Linked DNA regions of Homo sapiens: all the other regions are reported to be linked to region 1. The links are microRNA targets in miRTarBase. Many come from high-throughput screens and were not tested one by one. Region 1 holds a microRNA gene; each other region holds the end of a gene's coding sequence.

Region 1 (4,161 bases):
TCTTTCCGTTCACCCTAAACACCACCGGCGAGGCGCCGGCTTTGACCTTCCGTAGCTTCCCTAGCAAGGCGTTTCTCTGGGCGCGCTCTGTGGCCACCCTCACACTCGGTGCCCGGAAATCGAGCCCTTTGCCCACGGCTACTTCACGGGACCACCCTCCCGGGTTAGGCATAGGCCCTCCCGGATCTTCCGCGGTGTAAGGAGAAGGCCAGCGCCCCTGTGATAGGCCCAGAGCCCCCACTCCACAAGCCAGCCCATCCCCCACGGAGACCCAAACCGTCCACACACACCTTGCCAGCTGTTTGGGCCCCACGCCGCCCCAAAACACGCCTCCAGCTGGCCCCTTGGGACCTCCCTTCTCTAGTCCGTATTTTGACCTGGCCCGTGGCAGATTCGCCACTCCCCCCTACCCCAAGCAGCCTGGGCCTCGATGGGCCGTTGTCGGGGCCCGGAGATTGAAGTGGTGTTGGATCCTGCTGCTGGCCGCGCTGGGGTAGAAGGGTCGCCGGTGTGTGGGCAGAGCGGCCCCCGCGTCTCACCTTTAATTTTCTTTCCTTAGGCGGTAACCAGCGTGAGCTCGCCCGCCAGAAGAATATGAAAAAGCAGAGCGACTCGGTTAAGGGAAAGCGCCGAGATGACGGGCTTTCTGCTGCCGCCCGCAAGCAGAGGTAGCCCCAGGGAGGGGAGGGAAAGGGACGGTGGAGACCTGGGTTAGACCAAGGGTTATAGAAGGAAAGAGAGCTACCTCAGGGCTTGAATGTGGACTAGTCGTGAGGAGCAGAGTGCATTGCTTCCTCTAGGGTTTTATTTCCTCCCCACCCTCCAAATTGTTAGCTCACAGCCTTACAGGAAAGGACGGGGGCGGGCGCCTGCCCTCAGTCTGATTTCTGAGCGTCCCTGGGTCTGACCTTAAGGGCAAGGGCAGGGAGCTTCACATTTCAAATACAGTTGTGGTTACGGCAGCCCAGTACTTTTGGCCCTCCTTGCTGTTCGGTTCTCCTCCCTTCTCCCAACCTCCTCACTGGTGTTGCTGGGTGTGGTCCTCAATACAGAATAGAGACCCTTGGGCCTGTGTCACCAGACTTCTGACCCCTTGGGCAACAGCCAGATGGAGACTGGTCGCCTTTTGAGCCTCAGCTCTCTTCCTCTTGTTCTCCTAGGGTGGGAGTACAGCAGCCAAACGCTGAACTTAGTCCCATCCACTTCCATCTTATCCTTTGTGCCCTTCATCCCCCTGCATCTTGTCCTTTTTGCCCTCTGGTACCTCCCAGTGCCCCATCATCTCTACCCCCAGGGACTCGGAGATCATGCAGCAGAAGCAGAAAAAGGCAAACGAGAAGAAGGAGGAACCCAAGTAGCTTTGTGGCTTCGTGTCCAACCCTCTTGCCCTTCGCCTGTGTGCCTGGAGCCAGTCCCACCACGCTCGCGTTTCCTCCTGTAGTGCTCACAGGTCCCAGCACCGATGGCATTCCCTTTGCCCTGAGTCTGCAGCGGGTCCCTTTTGTGCTTCCTTCCCCTCAGGTAGCCTCTCTCCCCCTGGGCCACTCCCGGGGGTGAGGGGGTTACCCCTTCCCAGTGTTTTTTATTCCTGTGGGGCTCACCCCAAAGTATTAAAAGTAGCTTTGTAATTCCTTGAGCGCCTGGTTTGACTGGGGACTTGGGGGGATGGGGTTGGAAGAATGACTGCCCTTTCCCACCAAAAAAGGGAGAACTCTTTAGATTCAGATTGTGGGTATGTAGACTTAATAAGTGAAACATCACAGAAGAAGCCTTTATTATACAATGACAACCAAACAAGTACTCCGGATATGCAGTAGAGGAATCCTCTAAGAACCATAGAGACTTCTTTTCTGTGATTTTTGTTCCCCACCCTTGAACACCATCTCTAGGATGGAGTTGGCCTAAGAGTGAATGCTGCAAGATCTGTGTTTATGCCTCTTTTCCTCATTCTTCCTCAGTTTGTTCGTCTGCTTGAAAGTTGGCCAAAAAATCCTGCTGCTCACCGACTTCCCGTGGTCAGCTGCTGTCAAGCGTTCACTTTCTCTTCTGTCATTCCTCATGGAATGAGGGTGGTTTTGTCTTCCCGCTTCCCTTGACCTCAAAATCAGGATTAAAACCTGGGGTAGCCTCTGTGCTCCTTTCTTCTATGCCCTGGTTTGTTCTGTGGTTCTGGGCTTCTTATATCCGTGTGCCCAGGGCTGAACTCCTTATTTTCCTTTCTCCAAGGGCAGAGCCGAGTCTTCAGTCCCTGTTGGTCTTTCCCCACCCCCACTTCCAGCCCAAGAGCCAGGAAAGGGCTGGTGCCACACTGTCTGCTGGGATCAGCGGTGGTTCTTTGAGCTGCTGATTTGGGTGTTAGGCTCTTGAGCTGGGATGCAGATGTAACAGTAGCTCCAGTGAGTCAGACACTCTGCCCAGCACATTAGACTGTGTTTGACCACTTCTTCCAGTTCATAGTATTGACTTCAGCCCAAACGGAGATAACTCCCTGTGTGTCCTTGAGGTATTGAGCTGGGCTGGACAGCTCCCCTTGAGCCAACTCTAGGAGTACAATGTCAGGGGAACCCCAGTTTGTGAAAAGGACTTAGACTGGAGGATATTTGTTATCTGGGGATATGATGCGGTGGCGGCGGCGCCTCAAGATAAGGGGCTGGGGTTTCTGGGTGGGGGGCCAACAGAGTGGTGCCAGTAACAGCCCCAGATAGAGGAGTACGCAGGCCCAGCATGAGGCAACCTTGACCCAGAAGGTGGCCCAGCTACCCTTGATGAAGGTCTTTTCCAGTTCTGCTCCCTCATAGCTGTGTAACCAAAGGCTCTGGTTAGAGAATATGAAGGGCCTTAGCTTTTAGACCTGTTCTACCTCCTCACCAAATATAATGGCAGACCCATGTGTGTCTGGAATGGCCTTGAATTGCTCTTTCCTTAAAATAGCTAGCTCTTCAGGAGAGTATCTAAGGCCCACTCCATCTTACCTGAACCAGTTGGTAAGGGTAACCATGACATAGAGTGAGGCAAGGAAGAAGACGAAGTGGAAGGCAGAATAGTTGTAGGAAAGATGCTGGACTTGGACTGGAGGAGCTGGAGGGGTTTCTTGGTCAGCTGGCCTCGCAGCCCCACCCCTTTGCCCTGGAGAGAGGAAATGGCTGCTGGGAGCAGAGCTGCTGAAACACCTCTTCCCCTCTCCCCCAACTACCTTTGTTAAGGCTCTTGAGGGTTCTTATGGCACTCCACAGAGATCTACCACTTCTTATGGTTCCTCACTTGGCACTCACCTTTGTCTGCCTCCACTGTTTCAGGGCAGCAGAAACACAGTGAGGGCTTCTGCAAAACAGAACGCAGGTTTTGGAATGGTCTTAAAAGATGTGAGGGTGTTAATCTAGGAAACTTCCCCCGTGAAAAGATTGGTCTAGTATTAAAAAGTGGAGGCACACCTGGGTTCAAATTCTAGCTCCAGCATATAAGTGGCTGTGCAGACTTTGGTAAGATGTTTAATCTTTTGTGCCTCGATTTCTCCATTTGTAAAATGGAGCAAATACCTACCTCACAGGGTTGTTGTGAGGGTTAAATTAAATGAGATTATGTAAAAGTATCTAGCACAGTTGCCTAGCACATTGTGGGTACTCAATAAAAGGTAACAGCAGCTATAATCTGAGCATTCTGGGTAGAGGTTGGTAGGATGTGTGTGTGTCTTTGTGTGGGGGAGGGAGGGTGTTGGGGATATGGAGCTCTTTATCCTCACCTGAAACTCATAGCTGTAAACCTTGACAATCCACAGGGGTCCAAATACCTCAGCCAGGTAGGAGGCCTCATTGCTGAGAAAGAATAGAGTTCTTAAGCTGGTTTAGTTAAATAGGGATTATCTGGGGGCATTTACTACCAATTGGTCCATACTGGTAATCCTCAAAAGGGTACCATACTCCCTGTGCCCTTTTCCACCAAAGATTTAGAATTCTATTCATGTGAGAGCCCTAAGGTCTTTGGACATATTTTAAATTCTCAAGTCATTCCCCCCACCCCCTTCATCTCATACAGATCATCTGACAAAGTACTATTCTTAGAATTTGTCCCTGTTTGTGGGGAGCTTTTCTCACTCTAGTCTTGCTCTAAACTTTAAATAATGGTCCCAGACATTGTCCTGACCATCCTTCCCTGTCTTGGGCA
Region 2 (4,161 bases), not on the chromosome of region 1:
AGGTGATCTGCCCACCTCAGCCTCCCAAAGTGCTGGTATTACAGGCGTGAGCACCACACTGGCCAAGCATTTCTCTTATCAGACATTCACTTTATGATCAAGCTTAACTTTTTCTCAGTTGAAAGTTACTTAATTCCAGCCCCATATGGATGTGTATACAAATTATACTCAAACTTTGATTAGAATGCAAAGATTTTATATCCATGTATCCTTTTGACAACTTGTTTTCAACAATGGCAAATAAATAAAAGAATGCAGAAGATTTCACAGTCTGCGGAAGGCTGTGACTTAAAGGGAAAATTGTTCTAATTTATTGTTCGCTTTCAGACAATGGAAGAATACATGAACAAGCCTACATTTTAACTGGAAATCTACTTGAAGACTCCAGCACTACATGTTATGAAGCTGTAAATAAGCAACGCCTCCCATCCGGTTTTTTGATGGAGCCTCAGGCACCATGCCAAAAATAATTTAAAGGGATTCTTTGTTAACTAACAAAGTTAAAGTTGTTTAACATATTTATAATTACTATGTGTCTGTATTATTAAAAAAAATTATGTGTCTGTGTTATACTGTATAGGTACTTGTAGCTCTAAATGTTTAAAGTAACTACCACCTAACCCAACAGACAATATTTGTAATGTATTAACTCCATGTTATGTTTTTAAGCTGGTTTAGATACATTAGCTGCAATTTTTTTTGCATTTGACACAATATTGTAATAATCCATGATTTTGAATGTAAAGTATATATGATGTCATTAATACTTTTTCTAAATGTTTAGTTTTCTAAATTGTATAATAATTCAAAATTATGTTAATAGTGCAGAGTTTATATGTAATGCTAGACATTTTTCATACACTTAATAGTACTGTAACTGCAATTCACATACAAAATGTCTGATTTTAATGTGCTGAATTCATTTATTTTTTTTAGAATTGGGATTATGAAAATAACCAAAGAGTATAGAACTTAATAAGTGTTTTTGATGCCTTAGAAGCTGCTATCTTGACTGAGGTTTTAATTTATCTTTTAATTGAATATAAGGGACATTCCAATAAGGTTTTCTATGAACTATATATTTATTAAGGTTTATAGAGACCTAGAGATACAGCATCTATGACTTCCTTTATTATTCTAAAATAGTATGATAAGAATTAATAGCAATAATAATTATTGCTACTATTTTTTAAAATTCACGTTCCAAGCACTCTTAGATGCTGGAAATTTCATTTCAAATATGTTTTAATGTATCTCTAATGCATTTGAAGACTTATTACATGGCTTACTTAGAGCATTTAAGATTATCACAGCCTATATGGTAGATTCCTTTCCTTCTTTTTTCTTTTCTTACCCTTTCCTCCCCAAAGAAAAGATTTGCTGCTGACCATTATTACTGTAAGTATATCACATTTGTGCTTCCTGGAATGAAAATTCTGTATAACCAGGTCCTAACAGTGATCAGACATATTACAGGGAAATAGCTTGTAGGCCGGGAGTGGTGGCTTACACCTGTAATCCCAGCACTTTGGGAGGCCGAGGCAGGTGGATCACTTGAGGTCAGGAGTTCGAGAGCAGCCTGGCCAATATGATGAAACCCCATCTCTACTAAAAATACAAAAATTAGGCCGGGTACAGTGGCTCATGCCTATAATTCCAGCACTTTGGGAGGCAGAGGTGGGCGGATCACAAGGTCAAGAGATCAAGACCATCCTCGCCAACAAGGTGAAACCCCACCTCTATTAAAAATACAAAAATTAGCCGGGAGTGGTGGTGCGTGCCTGTAGTCCCAGCTACTTGGGAGGCTGAGGCAGGAGAATCGCTTGAACCTGGGAGGCAGAAGTTGCAGTGAGCTGAGATTGTGCCACTGCACTCCAGCCTGGGCGACAGAGCGAGACTTCGTCTCAAACAAACAAAAAAATTAGCCGGGCATGGTGGCAGGTGCCTGTAATCCCAGCTACTCAGGGGGCTGAGGCAGGGGAATGGCTTGAACCCAGGAGGCAGAGGTTGCAGTGAGCCAAGGTCATACCAGTGCACTCCAGGCGGGTGACAGAGCAAGACTGCGTCTCAAGAAAAAAAAAAAAAAAAAGAAAAAGTAAAAGCTTGTAGTATTCTGTCTTGCTGCCTGCTATTTGATGTTTTACCTGTGCATTTTCAATGTTAGCTTTGAGGTCTGGTATCATTCATATTAGAGTGGTTTGGGACCTCCAGTGATTTCCTAGAAGAGTGTGTTTCCTGTTGGATTCTTTAGGAGATCCCATCTGGTAGATTTTTAGAGAACTCGATGGAAAAATGTTCTCTTTAGTTCATCTCAGCAGACATATTTAGGGAAAACAGCAAAGCAAGCAGGAGAACAAAGGGAAAAATTCACCAATTCCTCAATATAACCATTGTTCAAAGGAAATAACTCAGATTAGCATATAAAATAATCATTAGGCTTTTACTATCCAATATTTCTTCAGGTTACCATGTAATTACAATTATGGCATCAGCTTGAAGTTTATCATGTATGATTGACCACTGTGTTTACTTTAGCTAACCTTCAGTTTTGTGGTTTAACTTTTTAATGTGTTAGAATTTTTTCTTTCTTTTTTTCTTTCTTTCTTTCTTTTCTTTCTTTCTTTCTTTTCCTTCCTTTCTTCCTTCCTTCTTCTCTCTCTCTCCTTCCCTCCCTTCCTTCCTTCCCTTCCTCCCTCCCTCCTTTCTTTCTTTCTTTTTCTCTTTTCTTTTCTTTTCTTTCTTTTCTTTCCTCGCTTCTTGTCACCCAGGCCAGAGTGCAATGGTGTGATCTCAGGTCACTGCAGCCTCCGTCTCCTGGGTTCAAACGATTCTCCTGCCTCAGCCTCCCGAGTAGCTGGGATTATAGGCATGCGCCACCACGCCTGGCTAATTTTGTATTTTTGGTAGAGTTGGGATTTCTCCATGTTGGTCAGGCTGGTCTTGAACGCCGACCTCAGGTGATCCGCCCGCCTTGGCCTTCCAAAGTGCTGGAATTACAGGCATGAGCCGCTGCACCCGGCCAAATTCTTTATTTTTCAATACAATTTTGTAAAGATGGACCTCATGTAAATCCATCATAGTTTTTCCGGTTCTTTTGAAATTTGTCACCATATTTGGATAAAGGTATCTCTTGAACCTCATTCAAATATACTACACATGTTCTGGATAATTCCATATTAGACACTTTAGTTATGGACAGGGCTTCTCAGACTTCAATCAGTGTCACACATAGAAAGTAAATATATCTCTTCTGGGCAAGGTGGCTCACGCCTGTAATCCCAGCACTTTGGGAGGTCAAGGCGGCAGATCACCTGAGGTCAGGAGTTCGAGACCAGCCTGGCCAACATGGTGAAACCCTGTCTCTACTAAAAATTCAAAAATTAGCCAAGTGTGGTGGCACATGCTTGTAGTGCCAGCTACTCAGGAGGCTGAGGCAGGAGAATCGCTTGAACCCGGGAGGCAGAGGTTGCAGTGAGCTGAGATCACGCCACTGTACTCCAGCCCGGGTGACAGAGTGAGACCCTGTCTCAAAAAAAAAAAAAAAAAAATGAAAGTAAGTAAACATATCTATATGGCACAGTGGGGTAAATTTGAGGGATTTTAGGGACATCTTCCATGGGCCTAGGCTAAAATAGTCATTGTGTTTTCTTTATATTATATAATTACTATAAAACTACCAAGAGAAAGACAGTAAATGTTAAATTTCTATAAAACTTCCAAAATAAAATGTTTTAACATGTTTTAATGAGGAACTTGGTGTGTTTTCATGAATACACTTTTTTTTAAGTCAGATTTTATGTTTGAAATTGCTACTCATAATTCCTGGTGATGTCTCTTTAATATGACCTCTTTATTTTCTTGGTACCTACCAACAAGAAGCAACTTCAAAAGTAAGTGGTAGCAAATGGGAGAAGAGTATTTATTGCTTTTGCTCCTACTGACTTTTCTCATCATTCACCTACATTTTGGTAATCTGATCTCTTTACACGTAATTAATGATGTGATCATTTTTTAAATCTAGTGACAGCTCCTTTTCTTTCATTAACAAATGTAAAGTTGACAATTTTTGTGATAAAGCAAATGGATTTTTGATTCAAACTTTTTTTTCCATATCAAACCTCCTAAAATAATGATAAAGCTTTAGTCAAATGTATTGTTCTA
Region 3 (4,161 bases), not on the chromosome of region 1:
TAAATTTGTTTTCTTGAGCAAGCCAACAAAGAGTTTCTTTTCTGCAGGTCAGAGTCCACCTGGCTGGCACCGGCCTTCTATTTGGAATGGATCTCTTCTCCTTGTTCCTAAGTGTTCTGGTCTCCTCTGTCTCGCTCTCATTTCCTCTATCTTTGTCTTGGTATGATGTGAGTGGCTGTGGGTGATGGTGGTTTTCTCCCCAACCCTAAATGGCTTGCAGTAGATATGGATGGAGGTGGATCCTTTGACTGGTTTTTTCTATATGCTCTGGGTCAGCCTGTGCTGCAGGACCATTTGTTAAAGGTTAATCACATTTTTTTGGCAGGCTGTTTCTGCCCAGGATGTTTATGAGTATATGGAAGATGACTTCCATCCTTGTGATAAAGCAAGTATGAAAGCACAAATGCCCAAATTATCCTGCCTCTCCTTGGTGCTAAGAAAAGGTCTCTGCTATGCTCTCTGATTTATTAGGCCAATTTGGCTTGACGTCTGCTTTGTGAGGTGCTAGCTGGCCTGAACCAACAGAAAAGCAGACTCATTCAGCATCAGTATCAGCTAAAGATCTGGAAGTGTAAGGCTGTGTTTCCTCTCCTGTCTTGGGACTTTGCTTCTGAGCTCATTGAGGCCCTGACAGGTGCTGACAACTCAAAGGAGAGGCTCAGTTGGGTAAAGTAAATAGGATAATCAAAAAATGTGGTTAATAGGGGATGACCTCCATCTAACTGGCTCAGCTACTCCAGGGAAATGAAGCCGACTGCGTGAACTGGAAGGAAAGACGCCGCACAAAATATCCGTCCCCAGGTGCTACTGACAGGGTATGAACGGGATGTGGAGGAGGCTCAGGTGGAGAGAGGGCCCTTCTAATTTTCCTGCAGAGCTTCTGGTCTCTGGGACTGTCCAACAATTTGAACCCCCTATGATTAGAACTGTAGTGCTGTTTAGGAAGCCAAAATGAAGGCATATAGGATCGGTCAGTTAATATTTAATTTTAATAATACTTGTTATGTTTGAACAGTCAGCAATGCACAAAGAAAAAATCTTCAGTGAATGTTTACACACAGTGTGAACACATGCTTTAAATATGCAGTGGAGGAGGAGGGGTGAATTCACAGTTAACAAAGCTAAAAAAAAAATCCTTGTTATAAATTACACAAAGCATATAAAAATATTTCTCTGAATGCATAGATTAAGACTTTAAACTCACCTACCAGCAACTGTGCAGTCTTATTCCACTGCGATACGCAGTAGTCAGTTGACCACAGAGGATTTTATAAAGGAGAAGAGAGACCAGCATAGGACAGAGATACATCAAACCCACCTCTCACCAGAGACACCAGTCCCTTGCTTGCCTCTGTCGCTAAGCCCAGAACATGCCCTGCAGCTGCTCCTCTGGAGGCCATCTCCCAGCCAGGGGCTCCACTGCTCCACTTTAATTAATCTGGGTGGCTGAAAGTGTTTTAACCCAAGTAACTTAAGACATGAATTAATAGTGAATTTATTTCCTCTAGGACAGAACCAGACTTAACTTTATTAGTAAACTGTAACTGTTTTAGAAGTAAAGAAAAAAAAGGTTACTACATCTAGTTAAATTCACTTCCGATTGGTTGAAACACAAGGGAGGGGCTGGGCCGGGTGGCTCACACCTGTAATCGGAGCACTTTGGGAGGCCAAGGCAGGTGGATCACTTGAGGCCAGGAGTTCGAGACCAGCCTGGCCAACATGGTGAAACCTTGTCTCTACTAAAATACAGAAATTAGCTGGGCATGGTGGCACATGCTTGTAATCCCAGCTACTTGGGAGGCTGAGGCAGGAGAATCGTTTGAACCCGGGAGGCAGAGGTTTCAGTGAGCTGAGATTATGCCACTGCACTTCAGCCTGGGCAACAAAGCAAGACTCCGTCTCAAAAAAAAAAAGAAAAGAAACACCAGGGAGGTTTCTTCTTTAAAGCACTTGAGAGAAAGAGGGTAATAAGTAACCTTCACTCTGCTATGCAAACACTGTACAAGGGTGAGTAAGTCACCAGCAGTAATTGGTGGGATACAATTAAGTCACTAAACAGAGTGAGTCCATGAAGTTAGCCTTGAAAAACATCTCAACCTCATTTCAGCATTTAGGCAGCAGCAGGAGGCCATTATCTTAGCACAACATTCTCTTCTGTTGACATCTTCTGCACGTTCTCACTCAACTGTAGTGTTCTAATAAAATTAAGTTAACACAGTTAGGAAGTTGAGTTTCTTTGGAAACTATAGGCACTATGGGGAAAAAGCTTCTTAAGACAGCAGGGATGCTCTTCGACAGCTGGCTTCAAACCCCTGCTCTCCTGTTTGTCTAAGTGTGCTAGTTCTTATTTCTGAAGTTAAGCTGTTTGTTTCAACAAAACAGTGGCTGCTCTTTTAACATTAATGACACTGAAGGAAAGGAAAAGAATCCTTGAATGCATTCTTCTAAAAAATTCCTATGCCATACTCAAGAGCTTAATCAGGTGTTTTGTTTCTATTTTTCAGAACAAAGTCTGGTAGACTCATAACTGACTTTGTGAAGTGAATTGGTGGTAGTAGTAGGGGGATCACTAAGATCAAACAATTTGTTTACAAAAGCAACAGATTTCAGAATTGTGTAAAAATCCTAATAATTTCAAAATAACCTTTATTTTTGATACAAAAATAAAGATGCTAACTCCTTTAGCTCAGTTTCCCACAATAACCTTTAAAATAGCAACAGATTCAGTCTCAAAAATTGCTTTTCATTTGTAGTGGAAAATGAAAGTGGAGAACATGGAACAGCAATATTTGTGCTCTTCTCATAGGATGCAGTTACACACACATATGACTGGAATCACTTCAGAGTAAAAAAAAAGTGGGCTGGGTGCAGTGGCTCACACCTGTAATCCCAGCACTTTGGGAGGCCAAGGACAGGAGCATCACTTAAGGCCAGAAGTTTGAGACCAGCCTGGGCCACATAGTGAGACCCTGTCTCTATGGGCGGGGTGGGGGTGGGGGGCATTGTAAAAAAGCAGTTGTTCTTTTAGAAGGCATCAGAGAGCCCTCTAGTGACCACGAAGGGGAGTTAATGCAGAGATGACTCGAGACAGAGAAGCAGTCATGAGTGTTTACAAAGGAAAAAGTGAGGGAGGGAAAGCTCTTTTGGTTAACAGCATATTTACAATTAGTTAACTGTATTCTTAAATACTTTTAACCTGAGTAACATTTATAAATATGTTATAGGAAACCTCACAGTCACAAGTCACACTAGAATCCATCTGTCCAGTATCTGTGCTTTCCCCACACCAGAATCCATCTGTCCAGTATCTGTGCTTTCCCGAGTCTTCCTCTCTCATAAGTTCCCAATGTCAGCAGAGTTGTGAGCATGCAACACCAAGAAAAACGCATCCCAGCCCTTCAGGTGCACTGTCAACAGGAGTGGCTAGAAATAGGCTCCGCTCTCTCTCAGCTGCTGCTTAGACAACTCTCTTACATTCTGGACATAAAACACACTGGATATAGAACCTTCAGCTTCTGCCTCTCCAGACCACTTCTCAGCTGTTCAAAGCTTCAAGCAATAGGTTTACTGTGCACCAAGAGGCTTGGAAGAGTGGCACCACTGCTTGGGGGTCAGGGGCTTCCTACCTTGGCAGAATGATGTTAGTATATACTATGCAGTGGCACCAGAGGCCCTCCCGGGCATCTGAGGCATTTAGATCAATGGCTTGTCCTTGGCCCAGAGGTGATGCACACTGTCATAATACTCAGTGATAAAAGTCCCTGCTGCATTAGTAAGTCAGTTTTGAAGCTCTCCTGTTATAGCAAGGCCTTTCAGTCAGTGTGGATGCAGCATTTCTGAACAGAAAATTATTTTCACTTATCATCAGAACCAGTTCCAGCTCCTGGAAATCTTGGAGTCGAGCAACATCCTTGTCCTAAAACAAAAATATGTTAAACAGATTAACAGGAGCCACTTGTCTCCATATGTTTGGTGCACTCTATTGATACCAGTATCTTGTCTTATTTCAAAACCTAGAAGAAAAAAAAAAATCCCTGTGGCAGGCTAAGTCAGTGATAGTGCAACTAAGGCCCCAGGATGATTGGGTTGCAAAGTGGAAGTCCTTAAAAACAGCTCAGCAGCTGCGACAGCATGAGCACACACTGCGAAGGGAGAGGCAAT

Evidence for each region. The annotated mature microRNA hsa-miR-1282 reads UCGUUUGCCUUUUUCUGCUU and lies in region 1 at 1,317-1,336, opposite strand. An mRNA with a match to its seed (bases 2 to 7 or 8) in the 3' UTR can be bound and repressed. Matches are read on the target gene's strand: a 7mer-m8 pairs with bases 2 to 8, a 7mer-A1 pairs with bases 2 to 7 and ends in A, and an 8mer does both.
Region 2: the mRNA of AP1S3 is a reported target of hsa-miR-1282. Seed matches in the 3' UTR shown: 7mer-A1 at 2,822-2,828.
Region 3: miRTarBase lists ANKRD40 as a target of hsa-miR-1282. Seed matches in the 3' UTR shown: 7mer-A1 at 1,816-1,822.

Annotation. Positions count from the first base shown.
Region 1 is chr15:43,792,416-43,796,576 of GRCh38, forward strand. It overlaps MIR1282 (microRNA 1282), which reads right to left and starts at 1,344; the gene lies at 1,244-1,344. It overlaps SERF2 (small EDRK-rich factor 2), which reads left to right. Exons shown (of 3, transcript NM_001018108.4): 2 at 560-668; 3 at 1,295-3,664. The coding sequence ends at 1,358. It overlaps SERINC4 (serine incorporator 4), which reads right to left. Exons shown (of 12, transcript NM_001258031.2): 9 at 3,740-3,812; 10 at 3,273-3,321; 11 at 2,973-3,126; 12 at 1,747-2,798. The coding sequence ends at 2,585. It overlaps SERF2-C15ORF63 (SERF2-C15orf63 readthrough), which reads left to right. Exons shown (of 6, transcript NR_037673.1): 2 at 560-668. RefSeq lists enhancers at 1-599, 388-717, 1,053-1,906, 2,628-3,129, 3,130-3,629.
Region 2 is chr2:223,754,917-223,759,077 of GRCh38, reverse strand. It overlaps AP1S3 (adaptor related protein complex 1 subunit sigma 3), which reads left to right. Exons shown (of 5, transcript NM_001039569.2): 5 at 328-3,752. The coding sequence ends at 363. Among named protein-coding and RNA genes, the nearest start is that of AP1S3, 81 kb to the left of the region's middle.
Region 3 is chr17:50,692,228-50,696,388 of GRCh38, forward strand. It overlaps ANKRD40 (ankyrin repeat domain 40), which reads right to left. Exons shown (of 5, transcript NM_052855.4): 5 at 971-3,916. The coding sequence ends at 3,770. ABCC3 (ATP binding cassette subfamily C member 3) reads left to right here. Exons shown (of 31, transcript NM_003786.4): 31 at 1-26. Among named protein-coding and RNA genes, the nearest start is that of ANKRD40, 14 kb to the right of the region's middle.